7 linked regions of the Homo sapiens genome follow. The protein of the gene in region 5 purifies or fractionates together with the protein of the main gene of each other region. This does not show direct contact. Each region holds a gene or a part of one and is shown on either strand. Other genes may lie near its edges.

Region 1 (3,500 bases), on a different chromosome or scaffold from region 5:
TTTGATATAAGAATGTCTTTTAAAAATCTCCTGATTACATGTCCATTGTATAATAATATTCAGCCAATATACCAAAAAAAGAGGAGAAAATTATTATAGTCTCATCATCAGATATAGCTATGGTTAAATTTTGGTATATATTTCCACTATTTTTTCTACATTTTTGTTTACTTTTTTCTTAAAACCGAATTATAATGAACATTTGGTCTTATATTTTTCCTAGTCACATTCTCCTAACATTACTATAAATGCCATTACATAACTGTTTTTATCTAATCCTCTACTAGACATTTAGGTAGTTGTTTCCCATGTTTTTCACTTTCGTCAACAATGTACTGTATCTTTACAAATATTTTTACACACATCTCTGTGGTTAGGATAAATTCCTTGAAGAGGATTCTGGGTCAAAGGTCATGCACATTTTAAATGCTTTGTAAGAGAATGATGACTATATTCTCACATATTTTCATGTAAAAATTTAAAATCCTGTATTAGAGATAAATTTTAAATTTTAAATAAGCCAGAACTGCATATAAAAATCCTGACAAATGTAAAAATATATACATTCAGAGAGCAAATTTATAATGTGACTAACAGCTTTTTATTGCGTAGTTTTATACTCTTTTAACTTGTGTTTTAGTTTATTCCTACACTATAGGTCGTCAGCAAAGAACAAAATAAGTCTAACAACAAAAGAAGAAAACATTAAAAATTCAGTATCTCAGGGAACACAGGATCACTTACAATGAAGAATGATCTGATCGTTTAAATACATTAAAAAGAAAAGTAGCACTTTTGATTATGATAAATTCCCATAGACTAGCAAAAGACTTGTAAAATATTTTGCTTAAAATAACAGGGTCATAGTTATGATGAGTAATACCAACATTAATGAGTAAAATGGGGAAAACAGGCACTGTCATACACTGGTAATAAGATGCTATATTAATGGAGCCTTTTTGGAGGGCAATGTGGAAGTAGCTATCAAAACTTAAAATATACATGTCCCTTGACCCAGCAATTCCAATTCTAGGAGTCTATTCTAAAGAAATACTCACTCATGTCCAAAAGGATCTTCAATGCAGCATTGCCTGTAATAGTGAAAAATTGGAAACAACCTAAATGTCAATCAGTAAGTGAGTGGTTAAATAAACTGAGGTATATCCACACTATGGAGTACTGTGTGGCCATTAACAAGCAAAAGGGATACTATATCTACGGACATGAAGAGTTCAGAGACACTTTAAGTGAAAAACTCACAGAAAAATGAACATATTTGATCCAATTTCTTTTTTAAATAAGTAAATATTTATGAACATCCACATAAATGCATGAAAAAGGACTGGAGGGCCAGGCACGGTGGCTCACGCCTGTAATCCCAGCACTTTGGGAGGCCGAGGTGGACGGATCACCAGGTCAAGAGATCGAGATCATCCTGGCCAACATGGCGAAAACCCACCTCTATTAAAAATACAAAAATTAGCTGGGTGTGGTGGCACGCTCCTGTAGTCCCAGCTACTTGGGAGACTGAGGCAAGAGAATCGCTTGAACCAGGGAGGCAGAGGTTGCAGTGAGCCGAGATAGTGCCATTGCACTCCAGCCTGGCGACAGAGCAAGACTGTCTCACAAAAAAAAAAAAAAAAAAAAAAAAAAAAGACTGCAAAGATACTATACCCCACACTGTTAATAGTGGCAATTATCCCCAAACTGTTAATAGTGGCAATGGGGAATTCTCATTCTATAATTCTACAGGTTGGATATTATTTGAATAGTTTACAAGGAGAATATATTCCTATACTACTTTTAATTTCTTAAAAAAGTTAAAAGATGACAAGAGTATAGAGTATAAGTAAGAGTATAAAGTCTGAAAAGGTATCTCAGACAGAGGAAGAAAGATACTTTGTCAGTTGTCTTTGATGACTAAGTTTTAGACAAAACCAAAAAACCTATTAATATATAGAGACAAATATTTTTAATTAAAGTTAAGACAAGTTTTACCTTGCTTACTTTAGAATTTGTATCTTTCTCTGATTTTTTCAAAATTTCCTTTTTGTCAGTTTTTTGCAAAGCTGTTGACTCTTCTTCCACCTCATCTTCTCCTTCCCCTCTTTTTTTATCAGCTTTCTGATCTCTGATCTCAGCCACTTTTGCAGTGGGTCTAGATATTCTTGGAGATCTTCTTAAAGTACGACCCACATTTGTTTTCTCCTCTTCCTTTTCTGTCTTCTCTTGCTTGTTTTCTGGTTCTAGAACTTTGGGGGGAGAATCGGGCTTCTTTTTCCGACTTGATATCCTGATTGTTAATTTGATGCCCTCTTTCTGCCTTTCAGAGGTTATCTCTGTATTTTCTGAGGCAGTGGTTTCTTCTTCAGGAACCAACTTATATTTGAATTTGCTTTTTTGCATAGAACCCTTTGTCTCAGAAGGCTCCTCTATGCCAGAGGTCTGGGCATTGTCCAGATTATCCATTTCTACCTTTGTGAACTCAGAATCCTCTTTTAGGGTTTCTAGGTCTACTTTTTTCACAGACTGGCCACCAACAGTACTTGTACTCTGGCATTCTACCACTTCTTTTTCTGAGGCTAGTTTCTCACAGTGGTCAATGATATTAGATGGTGGAGAAGTTTCAGCTGCCTCAGGAGAGCCAGGCTTTTCTGACTCTAGAGTACTCTTTGGAACTTCTTCTGGTATTGGACTCAATCTTTGTGCGTCCTTATCAAGAAAAGTCTTTTTGGACTTCTCTAACTTTTCAAGACATTCTAGGATTGGTGGGCGCTTATCCTTCTTAGTTTTGGGAGACTTCTCTTCACCTTTCATGGTACACGACTCGGTGGAAGATAAAGCAGTTTTTGAAGAGAGATCTTTTGCCATCTCAGAAGAATCAAGAGAAGTTTCCATTTCTGGAGGATCGGGTTCCTCTATTTGTGCTTTTTGACTATGGATCTCTAAGACTGATATTGAACTATCTGCATCTTTCCTCAAAGGGGCTGTTTCTTTCTCAAGCTCACCTGTTTTCATACTTGTTATGACAGAATTTAAGGACTCTGTTCCATTTCCCTCCGTGATGATATTTCTGTCCTTAGAGGGGCTATAGCTCTCTTCCTTTGTCTCATAAAACTTTGTCTCTATTGGTTCTGTCTTAAAATTTGGAGCTACCCTTTCATCACTAACTTCTCCATTTACCAGCTGTTTCCCTTCATGACCCAAAGCAGTGATTGTAGAGATCCTTTTACAAGTCTCTTCCTCTTGTTTTATTTCATCTTTCAAAAACTCTTTTGTTGGAGTAACTGATTTACACAAAGGTCCCTTGACTGGACTGTCAAAATCATCACTCAGTTTAATTTCTCGTTTTTTTAGTGGTATCTTGGCCTGCTGGTCATTTTTAAGTTTCTCAGTTTCTTCAGTAGATTTCTCAGTAATTTCGTGAGAAGATTTAATATTGCCACCAAATTCGATCCTTTCAGGCTCCTGTGCCACTGGCTTCTCCATGCTACTTTTGG
Region 2 (3,500 bases), on a different chromosome or scaffold from region 5:
CAATTTATAAATTTTGTAAAAGGTTACTTCTGAGGCAAATTTAAATTAACGTATTAGTTGGATTATTTATATTTTGATACTTTATAGTGGCATGGTATAGGATGAAGTTACATTATATGAAGTGGGACTATAAGAATTGAAACTGCATTTCGTGAACCACACCCTAAGTCAGTCATCACTTTATTTTGTACTCTACCCTGAGGTATCTATTTAGAATAAATGCTTAACACATCAGCACTAACACATCAAGTTATATAAGGTTTTAGATTATCTTTTCCCTATTCGTGTTTGTGAACATCTTTAGATATTTATTAGTTCAATATTGACATTATGAGAATAATGTTTTGTTTTCTCAGCAGTCTTGTGTTTTAGCCATTTATCAGTGTGATCAGCATGATTTAGGTATTAACTGACTAACAAAGCTTACACATTACCACCACCTCCCCCTCAAGCCCGTGTTGACCTTTTCAAGCATTTGCTCTACTTCAGTAGGCCATTTGAGTCTTCAAGTATGAAGAGAGTAAATAATTTATATCACTATGTAGTATAAATTGGTAAAAGTTTTTCAGAACTAGCTATCTGATTTTTTACAAAGTTATTGAAGTTAATCAGACAAATTGCTATCACATCTAGTTGACAGTGCTATATTTAGCAAATAATAAGTAATTCTTGAATGAGCTACTGAAAAAATAAACCACCTTTTTATGCCTTCAAACTCAGAACATATTAAAAAATAAATTTCATTAATCTTCAACACTTGATTCTAATTATCCCTTTTGTAGGCAGAATTGCAACAAGAATTTCTTCTGTATTATTTTTTCATAGATATATTCCATAGTATAATATGTTTGTAGGTTTTAATGGTAACTAGTTTACTTTGGCACTAAATTTGAGTGTATATCTAGCAAAAAAATTGGTGTGATAGAATGTATCAAACTGAATTGGCGTAACTTTTTTTGTATAACTGTCTACGTAATAGTAACAGGTTAGTATGAAAGCAATTAAAAATATTTATGGATAAAAATAATTGTTAAAAGTTTTCTACTTCTTTCAACTTAAGTGCTTTAAAAATGTTAAGCTGTTTAGACAATAACTCTTTTTTAGTGATCATATTAATGAGGACTTGGTATACAATGTAATCCTTTTAATGCTGATGAGTCCTCACAATGTTTAAACCATTATTTGTGAGACTCAACATGTTATGGCAAAATGATTTTTTGTTTGTTTTGTTTTCTTTTATGTGATACATCAGTTTTCAAAGCATATTTCTTAGGCTTCAGAGTCCAGCAGGTGGCTTTTTACATTAAAAAATTCATAAATTTTAAAATCCCATAAAATTTTATTTCAAATTCAAATTAACTAATTGAGAATGTCAACATTTTCACTGTCTCTATATTAACATTTATAATAGAACAAATGGTTGCATATAGAAATTATCTGCAACAGTCTAAATTAAGATTCTAAACAGGCATTACAGATGCTGGTAACTTTGGCAATTATCATTTTGTTTGGTGAACAGTAGTAAAACAGTGTGCGGTAAAAGTGTTTAGAGAGAGAGGATAAATAAATTGAACAGTTTTGCAATGCAAAGTGGTTTGTGGTGTTTTTGAGGATTTCTTGGCTCTCTCTTAACTGCTATTGTGAGCCTGGAGCAGATTTCCCCATTGCTAATGCCCTAGAAGTATTAATTCACTTTGATATGCTAATTAGAGGGCATTATGCAAGAAATGAGATTAAGTGGCAGCATGAAGCCATTTGCCTGTCAGTAAATTGAGAGCTTTAGCATCAGGAGGAGCTTTGTTTTTTTTTTTTTTTTTTTTTTGAGTTTCTCTTGGTTTTGCATATAAATAAAATTGATTGAAAGGTCTAGAGAAGCTTCCAGAACATTGGTGGATTCTTTTTTCCCCCTCCTATGATTATTTAAATGAAATGTTACAGGATTTTTCTGAATATTAATTGACCTAATTGGAGATACTGAATATAAAGTTTTTATTGTAATGTTTCTGTATAAAAATATACTAAAATTTTTGTGTCACCTAGTCTTTTTTTTCCTAAAACATAATTTCATTAACATGGCTAATGAACTGTTTATCACTTATCTCTTCTCAGAAGTGTAAACTTCTGTGTATGGGCTTGTGCACCAATGTCACTAAATTGAACTTCACAAGGATATTTTCTTCACTAGGGAAGGAAGGAAGAAGTTGAATTGGGCTTCAGAAAACTATATTAAATGAGTATTAACATTCTGACTTGAATCCATAAAAGCTGTAACAATTATAATTCATGGTTAAACTGCCCTTTATACAACCTGTGGAATTTATATTTCAGCATATATCTTATAGGTAAGATTACTGATGACATTTTGTGTGGAAGATGGAATTTCATACTGGATTCAGATTTTGTTGACTTTTGTGGCCTAAGCTAGGCCTCTGAATTTTTCTCTATAAAGCTATTTTGTGATATTTCTTATATTCTGGGGAGAAATACATGAATGAATACTAGGATTGCTGTGGGGAAAGGGAGGAAGACAGACCTTCTGTGCCTACAAGAAGGTTAAGGTTTACTCAAACATGGAACTTCTATCTATAAACCATGCATAGAGGATGGAATTGCAAAATCCTGGCCTAACTGTATTTGCTGGGTATGGTTAGAAGGAAGAGGGTTTGGGTAAGGCATTCCTACTGGGGTTTAGTTCAAGTGTCTGAATTCCACCACTGTAGCTGTGACTCTGGACCCAGTAAACCATATCTTCTCTTCAGAGCCATGTGGATTATTTAGTCACCACAGCTGCCATGCATGCATACTACCAAGGCAGGCATCTCTTCGGTGTGCATGTGTGATGCCTGTTAATGGTAATGTGAGTTACGAATGTGCACAGAAAGGAGGATGAGTTTCTCCTGAGACAAAAGTCCTGATTACATTTCGCTGTGAAGACGACTTTTAGTGTACCTACCACATTAGCTGCTTTTCTAAATGAAACACTTGGTTACTTTAAATTCTCACTCCCTTCTCTGATTCCCTGAACTAGTTAAATCAGTGAATCCTCATTAGTCTCTGATTACTTGCAAAATTTCATTTAAAACATATGAAGTTATTTTTGATTGAAAAGGGAACAAAAAGCTTTTGAAATTGCATGTTATTATTTAAACAAAGGTTTCTACAGGCTTTCAGATGTACTAAGCCCTGCAAATAATTTATAGAGGAATTATTGGGAAGGACTTATGAAATTCTTGAATGGCATTTGATGGGGAGGAAATCATTGCATTAAAAAATATATATATTTGAAATGGCAAGCTTAAATGTGCATCTTACCTTTACTATCCAAGTGTCCTTAAATGAGGAAGAATTGACTTAGGTGGTCTTACAAGTTTCATTTTTCTTTCTTTTCTCCTCCCACCATTGTTTTTTTTTAAAAAAAAAACTACAGGTGAAGGTTGTTGGAATTCATAGTCAGATATATCATTTTCAACTTGGAATAGGAACTAGAGCAGGAAATTGAT
Region 3 (3,001 bases), on a different chromosome or scaffold from region 5:
ACGCCGTCTCTACTAAATATACAGAATTAGCTGGGTGCGGTGGTGCATGCCTGTAATCCCAGCTACTCGGGAGGCTGAGGCAGGAGAATCGCTTGAACTCAGGAGGTGGAGGTTGCAGTGAGCCGGGATCATGTCACTGCACTCCAGCCTGGGCTACAGAGTGAGACTCCGTCCCCAAAAAACAAAAAAAAAACAACAAAAAATACTTTGGCTGTGAGCCGGGATTGTACCACTGCACTCCAGCCTGGGCGACAGAGTGAGACTCCGTCTCCCAAAAACAAAACAAAACAAAAAATACTTTGGCTGAGCACAATGGCTCACCTGAGGTCAGGAGTTCGAGACCAGCCTGGCCAACATGGTGAGACCCCGTCTGTAGTAAAACTACAAAAATTAGCCGGGCATGGTAGCAGGCACCTGTAATCCCAGCAACTTGGGAGGCTGAGGCAGGAGAATCCCTTGAACCCGGGAAGCAGAGGTTGCAGTGAGCTGAGATCGCAGCATTGCACTCCAGCCTGGACAACGGAGTAAAACTCCATCTTAAAAAAAAAAACAAAAAAAACAAAAAAACCACAACAAACTTTTACCCCAAATCTAAATGATAGAAATCTTTGTTCTTTTCTTTCTAGACATATGGAAAGTTGATCATGTGCTGGAGCGCTTGCAGAGTGAAAGCCTGGTGAACAGAAGGAAACCATGTCATGAACATGATGCATTTGAAAATATTGTTCATTGCAGCAAAAGTCAGTTTCTGTTAGGGCAAAATCATGATATATTTGACTTACGTGGAAAAAGTTTGAAATCCAATTTAACTTTAGTTAACCAGAGCAAAGGCTATGAAATAAAGAACTCTGTTGAGTTTACTGGAAATGGGGACTCCTTTCTTCATGCTAACCATGAACGACTTCATACTGCAATTAAATTCCCTGCAAGTCAAAAACTCATCAGCACTAAGTCCCAATTCATCAGTCCCAAGCATCAGAAAACACGAAAATTAGAGAAGCATCATGTGTGCAGTGAATGTGGGAAAGCCTTCATCAAGAAGTCTTGGCTAACTGATCACCAGGTAATGCATACAGGAGAGAAACCCCACAGATGTAGTCTATGTGAGAAAGCCTTCTCCAGAAAGTTCATGCTTACTGAACATCAGCGAACTCATACAGGAGAAAAACCTTATGAATGCCCTGAATGTGGCAAAGCCTTTCTCAAGAAATCACGGCTCAACATACATCAGAAAACACATACCGGAGAGAAACCCTATATATGCAGTGAATGTGGAAAAGGCTTCATCCAGAAAGGAAATCTCATTGTACACCAGCGAATTCATACAGGTGAGAAACCTTATATATGCAATGAATGTGGAAAAGGCTTCATTCAGAAGACGTGTCTCATAGCACATCAGAGATTTCACACAGGAAAGACGCCCTTTGTGTGCAGTGAATGTGGAAAATCCTGTTCTCAGAAATCAGGTCTCATTAAACATCAAAGAATTCACACAGGAGAGAAACCCTTTGAATGTAGTGAATGTGGGAAAGCCTTTAGCACAAAGCAAAAGCTCATTGTCCATCAAAGGACTCATACAGGAGAGAGACCCTATGGCTGTAACGAGTGTGGGAAAGCGTTTGCGTATATGTCGTGTCTGGTTAAGCATAAGAGAATACACACAAGGGAGAAACAAGAGGCAGCCAAGGTGGAAAATCCTCCTGCAGAGAGGCACAGCTCATTACACACCAGTGATGTCATGCAGGAGAAAAACTCTGCTAACGGGGCGACTACACAAGTGCCTTCTGTGGCCCCTCAGACATCATTAAACATCAGCGGCCTCCTCGCAAACAGGAACGTAGTCCTTGTGGGACAGCCAGTGGTCAGATGTGCAGCCTCAGGAGATAACAGAGGATTTGCACAGGACAGAAACCTTGTGAATGCAGTGAATGTGGTTGTGCCTTCCGTGATCAATTATGTCTTATTTTATGTTACAGAAAACCCATAGGAAGAAAACTCAGATCTATGTGGAAAAGGGTTGAGCAAAAATTTGTAGTTCATTATGTGGCCGAAAAGCATACACTGAGAGAACATGTATAAGGCTGAGATAGCCTGATAAACTCATCCTATTAAAATGTATGCTGTGATACACAGGCAAATTTGATGTTAACCTAAGCACATACACAGCAATTGCTCGACTGTGTCAATTAAATGAGTAAAGGAAGCCCAAGTACTTTTAAGTGGAGGAAATGAAGTACTGTGAATTTTTAAAACAGATGAGATAATTGGTGTCGGGAGTGTTGCAGTGACTGAAAAGCTTCATAAGGGGCAGTTGGTGGGAAAGGGCTAATACTGTAATGGTGGAATGTGGGACACATATGTGTCAATTCAGTTTCCTTAGACCAGTGCCAGTGTGGAGGATTAATTGAAAACCAGGACCATAAACTTTCAGAACTTTGTATTATGCAGAGGGATCTGTGAAACTAGTCAATTTGTTTCATTAAACAAATATTTTAAAATTATTTCCTTTGTACCTTGTCCTGTTCCAGGAGCTGAGGTCAAAGAAGAAAAAGTTTGTGGTCTCCTGGAGAGTTTGTGGGGTTAATTTTAAGTGGTATCATTACACTCAGGCAATCTAGTCAGGCGGTGCAAATATCTACATTAGGTGAAATGGACATGGAGTAACTGTGTCCAGGGGACGCGATAATTTATTGTTCAAGGAGTAGCAGAAGGACTGCTGTTAATGGTACTTAAGCACCTTAGTACAAAAAGGAGGGCTTTTTGTTTGTTTGTTTTTGCCCGTGTCTTATCTCTCCAAGAGATTACAAATTCCCTGCTAAGTTTTGTAGCTACTTAAATTTTAGAATTAAAGAAACTGAACACAAAATTTAAAAATTCAGTTCCCTCACTGCTCAAGAGCTGTATATGTGAGTAGAGGCTACTAAACTGGACAGCAGAGTGAACAGAACTTTCAGACAATGAGGACTCTTTGTCATTATTTCCAACATCCCAGAAAGTTATG
Region 4 (3,500 bases), on a different chromosome or scaffold from region 5:
AGAATGTGTCCTATTTGCTGATTTCAAGATCTACAGGTAGTGGTAGAATTCATGGTAGCTTTAGTCACAAATCAGTGTGTAATTAGTGACCTAAAGAACATCACACTTCTATTCCAGCCTTTTCTAGCAATATGGTTCCTACTGGATTTCAAAGATTACGCTCTGGTAAATTTTAAAAGTATCTACTGAAATAATCCCAATAGAAGTTTCTTTCAAAATATGGCTATACTCAATAGCCCACTTGCCTTAGGTGTTAGGGGGTATATGAGTTAAGTTCTGTCGTTTACCTGAGTAAAGATTTTAAAATGTTTTTAAACATTGGAAAACATTTTTGTGAAGTACTTTTCAGTAAGCTTAGCGTGTTCATAACGCTCACTTTCTTGCAAGCTAGAAGCATTTAGATTATAGTGTTGGATTATAATATCCTGCTTTTCTCCTCCAGTTCTTTGTCAAGAAAGACAATTTACTTTATCAGCAGTGCCATCGGTTTACTGCTGCCTTCTGTGTGCAGGAGTGTGGAGAGCTGGAGGCTTCTGGGAAGGCTTGTGTTTGTGCACACACCCCATTCAATTGGAACGGTGATTTGCTGTTAGTAGATTAGAATTTCTATTTTGCTGTATTCTGTTATTAACGTCTTTATTGTTACAACCACTTTAACGATTACTGATGAGCAAATTGGTTTTAAGGGATGTAAACCTGGTTTAAAGTATTATTCATTGTCTTAGAGTTTAAGGAAGTGTTTTGTCTAGTGTGTTAGCAGTTTCTAAGTCAAGAGCTGAAGGCATTTGCTGTCAGAGATAGCCCTAGGATGCCCAGCATTTTTGTTTTGGAGGGTCATAAGGAGAGTGAGTATAAATCCAAATAGTGCAGTTTTTTTTTTGCTTGTGCTGATCAACTTTATGGTGTGATTAAATACGATTTTTTTTATTACGCTCTTGAAATTGTACTCTTGAAGTTGCAGAATGGCAATTAGATGGCAGTCGCTGATAGCCATGTAGAAGTTTTGATGAACATGCAAGTTAATTTTAATTTCTGATCAGTTACGGTTAGTGACTGTGGCCAAACGTGTGTACTGATTCTACACGTGTGCTAATTCCGTGACATTTATTCACCAGCTATGTGTCGAGTGCCTAATCCTGTGTCAGGCACCTTGTTCCAGGCATTGGGGGCAGCAGTGGACAAGGCAACAGTCTCCATCCTGAGGTGTTACTTTTAGAAAAAGACAGTTACAAGCAAACAAACAGGATGGTTTTAGATCTGGACAGAGGTTTTCAGAGGAAGTCATCCTTGAGCTGTCACAATACTTTGGGGGGGTAGGGTGTGCTGGGTAGTCAGGGATGGCACATTTGGGGTGCCTAAGGATTGCTGTGGCCCTGGGAGCCTAGGACAGTTGGTCACAATTGACTATTAGAGTCAGTCTCAGAAGCTTTCCTGGAGAAAGAATTCTGCTGTTTTGCCAGGAGGGTTTCCTTCCCCATCTGACCACACAAGAAGACCCCTTGGCCTAGAATGCCTGCCCTCATCTCCAGGTCTCCCAGGCTGTTCACCCTCCCAGGCAAAGTGGAAGCTTCCTCTGTCCTAAGATCGTTTCCCACTGAACCTCCTTCATTGTCCTTCACCGCAGTGAAATAATCCTACAAGGTCTTGTGTGGAGAGTGATGGTAACTTCTTTAACCCAGATAATTGAGAATTGGAACCAAAACATCTTTCTATTAATAAATATTTTCAGTAACTAAGTTATGCTGTTTCCCTGAGTGGGAAATAACACTCCATCATATTTCTTATTTTTTTGGGCGGAGAGGGGAGACTTGCTCTGTTGCCCAGGCTGGACCAGTGGTGCGATCTTGGCTCACTGCAACCTCCACCTCCTGGGTTCAAGTGATTCCCAAATAGCTGGGATTACAGGTGTGTATTACCATGCCCAGCTAATTTTTGTATTTTTAGCAGATAAGGGGTTTCACCATGTTGGCCAGGCTGGTCTCCAACTCCTGGCCTCATGTGATCCACCCACTTCGGCTTCCCAAAGCATTGGGAGTATAGGTGTGAGCCACTATACCCGTCCTCACATCATATTTCTAATCCCGAGACTGTAGAGCTGGTGTCTCTTTTTCTAAAGGATGTCAGTAGAGAAGTGGAGTTCCCCAAAATTACAGTTTCACGTATTAGTCAAGTTTCTAAAATACAGTAATAATGTTGAGAGCTGACATAGGGACTAACTTAGTTTTTTTTTTTTTTTTTTTTTTTCAAATTCTCACTGAACTTTGATTTTGCTAAATAAGGACATTAAAAAAAAAACCAAAAAACTCCACTATTGCCTATTGCCACTATTTGATTTTTTAAAAAATAAGCGTATTTTAGCATCTAAAAGTAGGAAGGACCTCAAATAAATGAGTCTTTGTTCTTGGCCAGGGAAAACAGCGTTGTCAGAATTTGATAACTGTTTTTCTAGGGTATGTGCTGTTATTCAGTTAAAACCTTGCCTGGGACGCTAGCATTCAGTAAATACTTGTTGAATAAGCAAATGAAACTTAAGCTTCTATGTATAGAAACCTAAGTCACTTCACATTCTGATTAGCAGAGTAATTGAATATTCTTTTCAATGTGTAGCTCTATCCCCAGAACCACAGAATATTGGAACTGTAAAGGCCATCCTATAGTTTAACCAACTGCGTTAAATAGATAATAGAAAGATGTGGTATGTGGCAGTGACAACTTGAAGGTTGTGACTAGAACTCGGGTCTCTGGAGTGTTCTATTATATCACACCAAGCTGGTCACCAGCCCATGTGTTGATCCTCCATTGTGATAGCAACAAAGAAAAGACTTCAGGACATTCTTTCCTTTACCCTAATCCTTGATCTGCAGTCTTATTTAGAAAAGCTTAATGTTAAAGATCTAGTTTATTCAAAACTAAAGATAACAAGGAGTATGAGAATTTCTATTTCGGAGTGTAAAGGAGGAGATGTTTCCTTGGCTTCTCTGAGCCTGCAGGCCTTCCTTGCTCTTTAAGGAAGTAGAGAGAGGGAGGAAAGTAAAGTATGCTTTTGTTTTTTAAGGTTACTTTGCTGGGAGTAGTTTGCATGCCTTTTGGTTTTCTTGGGTGGAATTAACTGACTTAAGTTTTAAGTAGTTGGGACTATTTAAAAACAATGCCTATCCAATGTTTGCCATAAAGGCAGAGGGTATTGGCTTTAGAAGTTAATTCTTCTCCAGGAGTGAAAATTAGCTTCTAAACCAGAAGCAGCAGAGCTAAATAAAGTAATTTTCCACCTGGCCAGTGCATGATGTGAAAGGTAGATTAAAAAAATGAGAGGGCCCATTTTCTGATGAAAGACTAAGCCATGTTGAAACAGCCCTGTTGAGGATTTTATTTTAAATCTATACATTCACAAAGGAGCTTTGTGTATGTCTTTCCCTATTTGTTGTTTGGACTAGGAAGCCCCACCCAGTGCTTGTTGAAGGCAGAAAGTCGTTGAAAGCAAGCTGGGATTTGAACAGTGG
Region 5 (3,500 bases):
GTGGTTGCATGGGGAAGTGGGTTTGTGCATGGTTTATGTCAGACCAGGCTTGATAATTAAGTCTAATTAGCCAGGCAAGGAAGATGGTGGAAGGGGAGGGAATTTTCTGAGTAGAGAGAATAGCACATGCAAAAGTTTGCAGATAAGAGCTTGATTTTATTCAAGGAACTCTGGATAGTTAGGTTTAGTTCTAAGAGGAAATGGAATGGGAGATTGGAGTTTTGGGGGAGGTGGATAGGATATGATGCTAGAAATGTACATAGATCCAAATTATGTAAAATGGTATGTGCTATGCTGAAGAGATTGTCATCTTGCCTTGACTTTAGGACAGATTTCTCTATTTCTGCAAAAAATGTTGGGATTTTGGGATTTGGGATTTTGATAGGTAATGCATTGAATCTGTAGATTGCTTTATATAGTATTGACATCTTAACAATATTGTTTTGTAGTCCATGAACACGGGATACCTTTCTATTAGTGTCTTCTATATTTCTTTTTTTTTTTTTTTTTTGAGACAGAGTCTTGCTCTGTAGCCCAGGCTGGAGTGCAGTGGCGCGATCTCGGCTCACTGCAAGCTCCACCTCCTGGATTCATGCCATTCTCCTGCCTCAGCCTCCTGACTAGCTGGGACTACAAGCACCCGCCACCACGCCCGGCTAATTTTTTGTATTTTTAGTAGAGACGGGGTTTCACTGTGTTAGCCAGGATGGTGTCGATCTCCCGACCTCGTGATCCGCCCGCCTCAGCCTCCCAAAGTGCTGGGATTACAGGCGTGAGCCACTGCGCCCGGTCTATATTTCTTTTTAAGATTTTTTAATTTTTAATTACTAATTTTTAGAGATGAGGTCTTGCCTCATTGCCCAGGCTTGAGTGCAGTGGCACAATCATGGTTCGCCGTAGCCTCAAATTCCAGGGTGCAGGCAATCCTTCCGCTTCCACCTTCAGAGTAGCTAGGACTACAGGCATGCACCACCGAACCTGGCTAATTTATTTTTTTATAGAGACAGGGATCTCATTTTGTTGCCCAGGCTAGTCTCAACTCCTGGGCTCAAGCAGTCCTCTGACCTCATTGGCCTCCAAAAGTGCTAGGATTACAGGTGTGAGCCACCACACCTGGTCATTCTATAATTTCTTTCAGCAACATTTTCTGATTGTCATTGTACAAGTTTTTTGTCTCCTTGGTGAAATGTATTCTTAAGTATTTTATTCTTTTGATGCTACTGTAAATAGAATTGTTTTTTTAATTTGCTTTTCAGATTGTTCATTGTTAGTGTATAGAAATACAACTGGTTTTAGTGAGTTGATTTTATATTCTGCAACTTTCTTGAAACTCTTGATTTCTATTTTTGTTTTTTATGTTTTGAAACAGAGTCTCACTCTGTCACCCAGGCTGGAGTGCAGTGGCATGATCGCAGCTCACTGCAACCTCTGCCTCCCAGGTTGAAGCAGTTCTCCTGGCTCAGCCCCGCAAGTAGCTGGGACTACAGGCACGCACCACCACTCCTGGCTAATTTTTGTATTTTTAGTAGAGATGAGGTTTCACCATGTTGGCCAGGCTGGTCTTGAATTGCTGACCTCAAGCAAGCCGCCCATCTCGGCCTCCCAAAGTGCTAGGATTACAGGCAGGAGCCACTGTGCCTGGCTATTTATAAGCTATTAATTTAATAGAAATAAAATATTTGACAGATTTCTTCTTCCTATTCTTTGGTGTTACAGGATCTTCATGAAATCCCTATTTTACAGTGAGGAAGCATCAAGAAACAAATGGTATACTCTTTAATAGGAACAATATGCCATATTTATCAAATTATAGAATATATAAAGCTTGCAAATATTATGTAGTAGATAATTCCTTTAAAGTGTACTCCTCATGGTTATGTTCTAATCACATTCCCACAAAAGTTTCTATACTCTGAATAACTTTAAGGGAGGAATACAGTAATTGTTGGTGTATATGATAAGGTCCATGTGTTTTATGAATATTAGGTATTGGATATATGAGCTCATAAGAGAAGATAATCTTTGGTACGTTATATTGATCATGCCACTTTCCCAATTTCAAATAACTTATGGATTCTTAAAGGTATTAAATGAATAAGTACTATTTTTTAAGTAGATATGTCATTTTAAAACATTTTGGTTTGGGCCATGCCTTCGTCAATATGTTCCACATAGTTCCATATAAAATTAGAGTCTCTATATGATAACATCAAAGACATGCCTGAAGGGAACTTAATTTTTTTAAGGAGGTGGGGAATCCATTTGTAGAAACCAGTGTAAGAAGCTGTTTGAAAGACATCAAACATGGACTTGTCTGGACTTTGCAGGTTTTAAGGTATATATAGGAATCAAAATTGACTCATGACTTTTAAAGCTTCATGTCAGTAAAAAATAAAAGAGAAATGTTGGGAATGGTAATATTTGAGATATATAGTTTTTACTTAGCTACAGAAATGTACCCATAGGAACTTGCTTGAATCTGAATGCTCTGCTACACGTGTTTAGAATTATTTTTGCCTCTTTTGCCAAAACATAATAAAATGATAGCAAAATATGACAGTATGTGCACTGATCACAACAATATAATAAACTGCATCCATGTCTTTTAAAACTAGGCAAGAATAGACAAAATGCTCTAATTTCTGTTGGAGACTAGCAATATGCAAACCAGACCATTTTTGTTGAAAAATTCTGGAGACATTTATGACCGAGTTTTTATATCCTTTAAGATAATTTTATCCTTTCATGATTGTATCATTTCATGATATGTTCCTTTTGTGACAAATGCTGCTAGTATCAGTGTCACAGATTGTTACTGATGATATACAGTGTTTATGCTTTAAATTCCGAACTCACAGAATTTAATGGAAACTTCAGAATTCTTTAAATTTCAAAAGTTTTAAAGCATATTTATTTGGGTACAAAATTTTATTGCCTTTAAAAATCTTTTTCAGTATCAAGTTTATTATCAAAAGCACAAATAATAAAATAGAATTTAAAATATTTATTTTCAGAATACCACTATTTTAATAAATGATCTTTTGCCTATGCCAGCGTCTGCTATTAACATCTAGCTAATATATTTTCTGTGTCTAGTAAATATGGTAATCAGTTTCAAAGAAAACTAGGTAGGTTTTGTGAGGCAAAGTTGAAACACCTTGAAGAAATGGGAAAGTTTGGGGGCTCTAATAGGACAGGATAAATATTTCTTGATTCATTTTTTAATTGCTCCATTTATTTTCTATACATAGAATCAAAAATTCTAAAAAGAGAACATTATCTTAAGACTGCACAAATTAACAGTGAAAGGAATTGTCCCACTCATTATTAAGAATGCTGTCAGGCTGGGCACAGTGGCACACACTTGGGAGGCCAAGGCAGGAGGATTACTTGAGTCCGGGAGTCTGAGACCAGCCTGGACAACAAAGCGAGACCCTGTCTCTACAAAAAACATTTTTTTAATTAGCTAGGCATGGTGGTGTGTGCCTGTGGTCCCAGCT
Region 6 (3,396 bases), on a different chromosome or scaffold from region 5:
TCTTTTGTCACTAACTGTGATCATTTTTTGATATCAATGCATAGAGCTCTACAACGTCATTTTTAATAGTTGCTAAATTATTGTATTATATGTAAGTACCATAATTTATCCAGATCTATACTGAAATCAGGTTATTTTTTCCTACCATGAACAATGCTGAGACGAACATCCTTGTACATAGGCATCTTCTTGTGCTTATGTTATTATTCCTTGGGGGAAATGCCAGCGTGTAGAATTGCTGGGGCAAAGAGTTAAGCGCATCTCAGTTTGGTAGATCTTGCCAGGGCGTTCTCACTGGGCCATGCCATCCCGCACTTCCACCAGAGGTCACGAGGTGCTTTCCCCTTACCCTCAATGAGTTTTGTCCAATTTTGCCTTTTCCTGGTTGTCAGGAAAAGGCTTCTAGTTTCCATTCAAATATTTTTGCTAGTGAGGTTGAGCATCATCTTTTTATATGGCTTTGTAATTCTTCCTGTGTAACATGATGTTTATGTTCTTTGTTCATTTTTCTAATTTCTCTTCTCTTTAGATTGGAGAAATGAAGGCAGAGGTCACCAAACTACATAAAAAATTGTTTGAACAAGAAAAGAAGTTGCAAAACACCATGAAGCTTTTGCAGCTGAGCAAGCGCCAGGAAAAAGTCATCTTTGATCAATGTGAGTGAGTGTGGGGGTGGCCGCTATGCCTGACCACTTCCTGCCTCCGAGGGCTCCCAGTTCTGCCCTGGATTACCCACTTTGGAGCCCAGATGGTTTGTAATCATGCCTCCTATCTGTGGGCTTCTTTTCATACTCCATCCTTTCTGACTCACATAGACAAATGTATTCACTTAACACACCTTTGTAGAGCGGCCTTTTGGTGTCAGGGACTGTCGTCTCACTGGGAGACAGTCGTGTGGCATGTGCAGTGATGGGAACATGCAGAGCACTGGGGTGGGAGTTGGGTGGCCGTCACTCTGTCCCGGCAAGGTGGGCGTCTTAGACAAAGTGACCACCTCGCTGAGTGTGAAATGAAAGCAGACGTCGTCACATGGAGCGGGGAGTGGCAGTCCCTCAGGGAAGAGCATGGACAGAGGCACAAAGGCAGGAAATAAGTTTTTGTATGTGAGAAACCAAAACCAGTCCCTGTGGGGTAAAGGCTGCAAACAGTGAATTAAGGTGGGAGGGATTGGGGGTCAGGGAGTACTTCATGAAAGACTGTAGGTGGCAGGCTCAGGGCAGAGGATTGGCCTGTCACATCTGTGTGCAAGAATGGCTCGCTGGTGGCTGCTCCACCAGTGAGGGGGAGGCTGACTCACTAGTCAGACAGGAAAGGTGGCTAGGACGCTGGGGATCCAGAGGAGGGCATGGATTTGAGAAATACTTCTCAAGGCAGATGCCGAGACTCAGGGTTGGTGAGGTTAAGTAACTTTTGTAAGGTCAGTCCCAGTTCTGATCTAGCCACTTTGGAGATTGTTTGGGAGCAGCTCTGTCTCCTGGTTTAAACCCTCAGCACTCCCTCCCGCTGCATTTAGAGGAGCAGGCGGTAGCTGAGTTTCCATTAGTGCCTGTTGGCAACATGGCCCTGGCCAAGCCTGCGCTGTCTGTGTGTCAGTTTCCCTGTCTTAAGAGAACTGCTGACTGCAGCACTTTTTCTCTGGAGGTGCCAGCCTGCCTTGTGCGGCTCTCCTGTCAAAGTCCAACATTTCTGGGGCATTTCTGAGAAGCACAGGACAGAGATTATTGCCAAGTAGGAGTTCTCCTTAGCCACCCCTGGGAACCTTCTGAAAATAGACTCTGTGAGACTGCCAGTGTTTGGACTGCAAAAGAGAGGAGCGCAGCCACTGAGCAGGCACTGAGTTCCTGTTCTTTGCCCCTTACGCCAGGTCCTGGGGACAGAGATGAACGAGACAGTCTTTGCCAGTGAGGGTCGTGGGCTTAATAGGGGAGACACAGAGCTTAGCTGCAGGACGATGTGCTGAGTGCATCCTAGGAGGCCTGAGAGGTGGTTCAAGACTGACTGGGTCTTGAAGAATGACTAGGAATTTGTCAGCGAAGGGGCAGGAATAGGATTCTGGCAGATGGCCCTGTGGACTTGCTGGTGTGCTCCCAGGGGTGAGAGAGAACTGAGTGCTCAGGGACATGCTTAGGACGTGCAAAGGGTTTTCCTCTGAGAGATGAGTGAGAGGGAGAAGCAGGAACCAGGTTGCAAGGAGCCTTGTGGACAGGACTCCAGGACGAGCAGCAGGGACCGGCGGGGTCCATGCGTGTATTACAAGATCCCATGGCTGAGCTTGGAGGGGCCAGGAGGCCGGGAAGACCTCTTTGGGGGCTGCAGCAGTCCCCCAGGTGGGCAGTGGGTCAGGACTGTGGGGGAGAAGGGATGGTTTTGAAAGATTGTAAGGAGGTCAACCTGGCAGAGTGGTGGATGTCTGTGGGGTTCTGGTTGAGGGTTTCGTGTCACTCGTAGAGAAAAAGAGCACTGAGGGGAACCTGGAGAGAGACAGTGCCAGCTGTGGTCCTGTTAAGGCAGCTGTGGAATATTTAGGTTAGACTCTTGGAGCAGCAGTGGGGTGGGGAGCAATGCTCTGCATAGGTCTAGAGAAAGGCAGAACTCTCTGCATTGGCATCTCTCCTCCTCAGCAGCCTTTGGCCCTGAACAGTCACAGGGCAGGTAGCTAACCCTATTGACAGGTGAGAAAATTGCAGAAGTAGGTTTCGATGGGTTGAGTACTGTGGTCGGTCAAAAGGACAGAACTAGAACCCAGATCCCCTGTGTCCTAGGTCAGAGAACATGGAATTATTGATTGAGCACAGTTCAGATCTCCATTCTCCTATGTGACCTGCATTAGACTAGAACCCTAAGCTTTCGATTCCTCATCTCTAACTGGAGACGTGAGTTCCAAAGGACTCAGACTAACTAGTTGGTCCCGGGTTCAATAGCAACTTTATAAAAAGCACCCCAGTTTTCTCATCTGTAAAATAAGGATGATAACGCTACCTAAACTGTATTGTACTTAGCACAGTCTCGGGGGCAGAGGAGATGCTCAACCAGTCCCTCCTCTTTCTTTCCATTAGGCCAGACCAAATCCTATGCATGGAGGTGGCAAATCATTCATAGTAAGAAGAGCCGCAAATGTCTCATAGCACTTCCCCTCCTGAGCTGGTATTGTCCATCTCCATATCTCCTAGGCCTGGCACAGAGCAGGCTCCGCCAGAGCAGGGTGAGGGGCTTGCTCCAGGCAGCATAGCTGGTGGCTGACCCGGGCCTGCAACTCCTCCTTTGCCAGGCTCTGCAGCTCATCCCAAGGAGTCAGGTCCTTGGAAATTCTCCAAGCCCTGCGGACTTCACAGACCTGCTCTGGGTCTAAAGGGACTAGGAGAAAGTTGGCATAGCACCTCCTCTTCCTCCGTCCCC
Region 7 (3,500 bases), on a different chromosome or scaffold from region 5:
GCCAGTGTGGAGCCAAGATTAAATAGCCTGCTTTAAGCAATGAAAATTTCAACAATGTCACTCTATTCTCAACTATTTTACATTTCCACAAAGTTTTAAAAAATAGTTTAAATTGGCAAATTTCAACCATAGATGCAGATTAGAATCACTCGCGTATTTTTTTTTTTCAAACTAGACATATACGAGATCTATTCCACAGGGTGCCTAGATGCACATATTTCGGAAAAAGCTCACCAGGTAAATCTGACATGCACTCTGGTTAAGAATCTCTGACATAAATAATGTAATTTTAAAAACCTTATCAATGGGATGAGTCATTCAATACAATCTAAGTCAAAGATATTTATGTGTACTGTAAGTCAGGCATGGACCTAAGGATGTCAAGATAAAAACTTATTCTTATCTTCAAGGAATTTAAGAGTCTGTTAGGGAAGATAAGTTCATAAATGAATAATTGTAATATAGAGTGTTAAGTACAACAGAGATAATTATTAGGTTATAGTGAAAGTCTAAAATATATTTCATGACATGCTTATAAAGACAAAATTTTTATAGTTATGAAATAATTAATTACAGATTATCCTAACTACAGTAACTATAATTAGAATTACTTCAAATCCTACTAAAACATAAAGGCTATAATTTAACAAAATCTAAACTTAAGATTTGGGATTATAAGATATACTGTTTATAACTCTAAAATACTAATGCTGGTGGGGGGAAATTTTTTGGTTACTAGCTAAATGATTTTTAAAAAAAAAATCATTTGGGCTTTAGATCACAGGGGAAACAAAGAAAAACAAACAACAAAAAAACAAAATTGGGCTTAAAAGAACCATGCTTACCATGCACTTATAATGGGCAGCTGCCTTCTTGGCATTAAATATATGCAGTTTTCCTCGTGCTTCATTTTCTTCCTCCCCTACATGGCAAAATCCACATTTAGGCCTGGTGTCACTAGGGCTGCTTCTGTGTGGAGACCTATCTCTCTGCAAATGTAAAAGAAAAAACGAACTTAAAAAAAATCATGAAAATATGCTATCGGTATTTCAAGCTTACTTAACATTTCAAATGATGAACTTTACCTATAGATAGTTTAAATGAAATATTCATGGTGCAACAAAAGTAAGAATCCAACAGTTTTTTTTACTTACATAGGAACTACTTTCCATTTCATCTGTTCCATGGGAGGATGTGGACCTGGTATCTTCTGACAGCCCTTTAAAATTAGTTTTTCTTGGCCTTCCTTTGCGACTTTTCTTTTTACTTTTAGGTGATGAGGGCTCCAGTTCATGTTCATTAAAACTTTCTTCTAAATCAGCTGCTTAAAAATGAACAAAAACTTTTTATGGACCAATCTCAAAATAAGTATTAGTTCATGGGTCTTTAGGACATATGTTTCTCCTTAGAATGAAACTGTCTCCAGAAATGAGGAGAAATGGTCTGTGGTATGTTCAATAAAGCCACCCAATGTTTCAGATAAATGCAATAAAAATCAAATACAAATAGTTTAGTAAATTAATTTTTAGAGTTTGCTTTTGCATTATTATTTTTTTTTACCATAGGTTTCAAAGAGTTTGTAAAATTAGAACACTTACCTAGAAAATACACTTACTGTAACTTGGAAAACTAAATGAAAATAAAGTAGATATATCTGTGCTATTCAATGTAGTAGCCACTAGCAACATGTGGCCTTAAAAAATTTAAGTCAGTTATAATTAAATAAAATTAAAACTTCAGTTTCTTAGTCACACTGACCGCACTGCAAGAGCTTATTGGCTACATGTGGCTAGTTGCAACTGTATTAGACAGCACATATACAGGACTGTTGCCACTGTCACAGGAAAGTTCTACTGGATAACACTGGTCTAGATTACTCTTCAAACGATCATGAAAACTGAATGAACAAATTCAACAAGGAAGTCATTTACAATTGAACTAATGGATCAAGTAATTAAACAAATATTAAGTACAAAAAGAATTTCTAATACAAGCAGTAAAAAAAGTATGTTGCAAGTTAGTTGCATATGCTTTAATGAATTAAGCAAAACTTACGCAGAAATTTGAGAACTGCATTTCTCAGTAATCTGAAAAGAATTTCTACCATAATGAAAGGTGTTTCATCAGTAGTTTACTATAAATATTTTATTTATTGAAGGCCTCTGTATAAGATAATGTATTAATATTTAGTGTTTAAAAGGGTAATAAAAACCAAATGTTCACTTGCCATAGGCTCAAACTATGGAAAGTTTTAGGCACAGCTCTAATATTTTCGCCATTTTTTCCTTTACCATGTTATTGATTATAATTCTAGAGACTAATTTCTCAATGAGAAAGCATATCAACTCCTATGCTCAGACGTTAATATCTTTCCTACTACTTTGAAGGTTGTTTATTAGAAATGAAAGCACATTTATTATAAGAAAAGGGCAATTCAGTTGGTATACTTGAATATATATATAAATTAAGGGAACTACAAGTATTAGGTTGTTTGCAAAACAGTTAATAACAATTTACATGAGTGCAACTTCACATAGCTCTGGTGGGACTTGAGGGAGTTAAGGGGAAAAGGTAAAAGTTATTGCATAGTGTTTTATAGGCAACAAAATAAATTCACGTGAATAACTTCCTGTGAAGACACAGAAGTCAATTAAAGATGTTTTCTCTCCTTAACACGATAGCAAACTTCATGTCAGAATACACTACTTAATTTAAATATTCAAACTGACAATTTTTAAGACATGGAATTTCACTAAAAGCTGTTAGAATTACTTGCACTTGGCTGGGCGTGGTGGCTCACGCCTGTAATCCCAGCACTTTGGGAGGCCGAGGTGAACAGATCACGAGGTCAGGAGTTCGAGACCAGTCTGGCCAATATGGTGAAACCCCGTCTCTACTAAAAATACAAAAAATTAGCCGGGTGTGGTGGCGCACACCTGTAGTCCCAGCTAATCGGGAGGCTGAGGCAGAAGAATTGCTTGAACCCGGGAGGCGGAGGTTGCAGAGAGCCGAGATTGTGCCACTGCACTCCAGCCTGGGTGACAGAGCAAGATTCCATCTCAAAAAAGAATTACTTGCACTTGCCAAATATTAAAAATTCTCAAAATGAAAAATCATAACTGTTTCAATCATTCTAAGACATCTATGTGTATGTATATATAAAACATTGTTTTATACATATGTATACACATAATATATTCAGTTATCTATTATGAAAATAAGCATCACTAACACCATACATAACACTATTAAATAACATTTAATAGTTGTTTAATAAATAACAATAAACAAATAAGATGTTTAATAAATAACATTATTAAACATCTATAACATTTAATAATGTTATTTATTAAACATCTATAAAAATTACTTAAGAACTGATTCCATTATCAAGCCAACATGATTAGTTTCCCACATGTCATATTTGTTCTAAATATGAAATCATTCCACAAAAATTTTTAACAACTTTAACATCAATAGTAAAAGTCACGAAAGATTCA

The links.
Region 1: the proteins of RBBP8 (region 5) and RSF1 purify together in Homo sapiens (affinity purification with mass spectrometry, with the first as the bait; one study listed by BioGRID). This does not show direct contact.
Region 2: the proteins of RBBP8 (region 5) and PBX3 purify together in Homo sapiens (affinity purification with mass spectrometry, with the first as the bait; one large-scale study listed by BioGRID). This does not show direct contact.
Region 3: the proteins of RBBP8 (region 5) and ZNF350 purify together in Homo sapiens (affinity purification with western blotting; one study listed by BioGRID). This does not show direct contact.
Region 4: the proteins of RBBP8 (region 5) and ZNF217 purify together in Homo sapiens (affinity purification with mass spectrometry, with the first as the bait; one large-scale study listed by BioGRID). This does not show direct contact.
Region 6: the proteins of RBBP8 (region 5) and CDK5RAP2 purify together in Homo sapiens (co-immunoprecipitation; one large-scale study listed by IntAct). This does not show direct contact.
Region 7: the proteins of RBBP8 (region 5) and PHF6 purify together in Homo sapiens (affinity purification with mass spectrometry, with the first as the bait; one study listed by BioGRID). This does not show direct contact.

Annotation. Positions count from the first base shown.
Region 1 is NC_000011.10:77,698,723-77,702,222, forward strand, and holds part of RSF1 (remodeling and spacing factor 1), read right to left. Parts: coding exon 1,999-3,500; intron 1-1,998. UniProt on the Homo sapiens protein: Regulatory subunit of the ATP-dependent RSF-1 and RSF-5 ISWI chromatin-remodeling complexes, which form ordered nucleosome arrays on chromatin and facilitate access to DNA during DNA-templated processes such as DNA replication, transcription, and repair.
Region 2 is NC_000009.12:125,753,873-125,757,372, forward strand, and holds part of PBX3 (pre-B-cell leukemia transcription factor 3), read left to right. Parts: intron 1-3,500. UniProt on the Homo sapiens protein: Transcriptional activator that binds the sequence 5'-ATCAATCAA-3'.
Region 3 is NC_000019.10:51,963,840-51,966,840, reverse strand, and holds the end of ZNF350 (zinc finger protein 350), read left to right. Parts: intron 1-626; coding exon 627-1,987; 3' UTR 1,988-2,501; downstream 2,502-3,001. UniProt on the Homo sapiens protein: Transcriptional repressor. Binds to a specific sequence, 5'-GGGxxxCAGxxxTTT-3', within GADD45 intron 3.
Region 4 is NC_000020.11:53,583,840-53,587,339, reverse strand, and holds part of ZNF217 (zinc finger protein 217), read left to right. Parts: exon of another isoform or gene 1-588; intron 589-2,245; exon of another isoform or gene 2,246-3,500.
Region 5 is NC_000018.10:22,939,828-22,943,327, forward strand, and holds part of RBBP8 (DNA endonuclease RBBP8), read left to right. Parts: intron 1-3,500. UniProt on the Homo sapiens protein: Endonuclease that cooperates with the MRE11-RAD50-NBN (MRN) complex in DNA-end resection, the first step of double-strand break (DSB) repair through the homologous recombination (HR) pathway.
Region 6 is NC_000009.12:120,391,772-120,395,167, reverse strand, and holds part of CDK5RAP2 (CDK5 regulatory subunit-associated protein 2), read left to right. Parts: intron 1-529; coding exon 530-656; intron 657-3,396. UniProt on the Homo sapiens protein: Potential regulator of CDK5 activity via its interaction with CDK5R1. Negative regulator of centriole disengagement (licensing) which maintains centriole engagement and cohesion. Involved in regulation of mitotic spindle orientation.
Region 7 is NC_000023.11:134,411,312-134,414,811, reverse strand, and holds part of PHF6 (PHD finger protein 6), read right to left. Parts: intron 1,325-3,500; coding exon of another isoform or gene 1,322-1,324; coding exon 1,155-1,321; intron 990-1,154; coding exon 846-989; intron 1-845.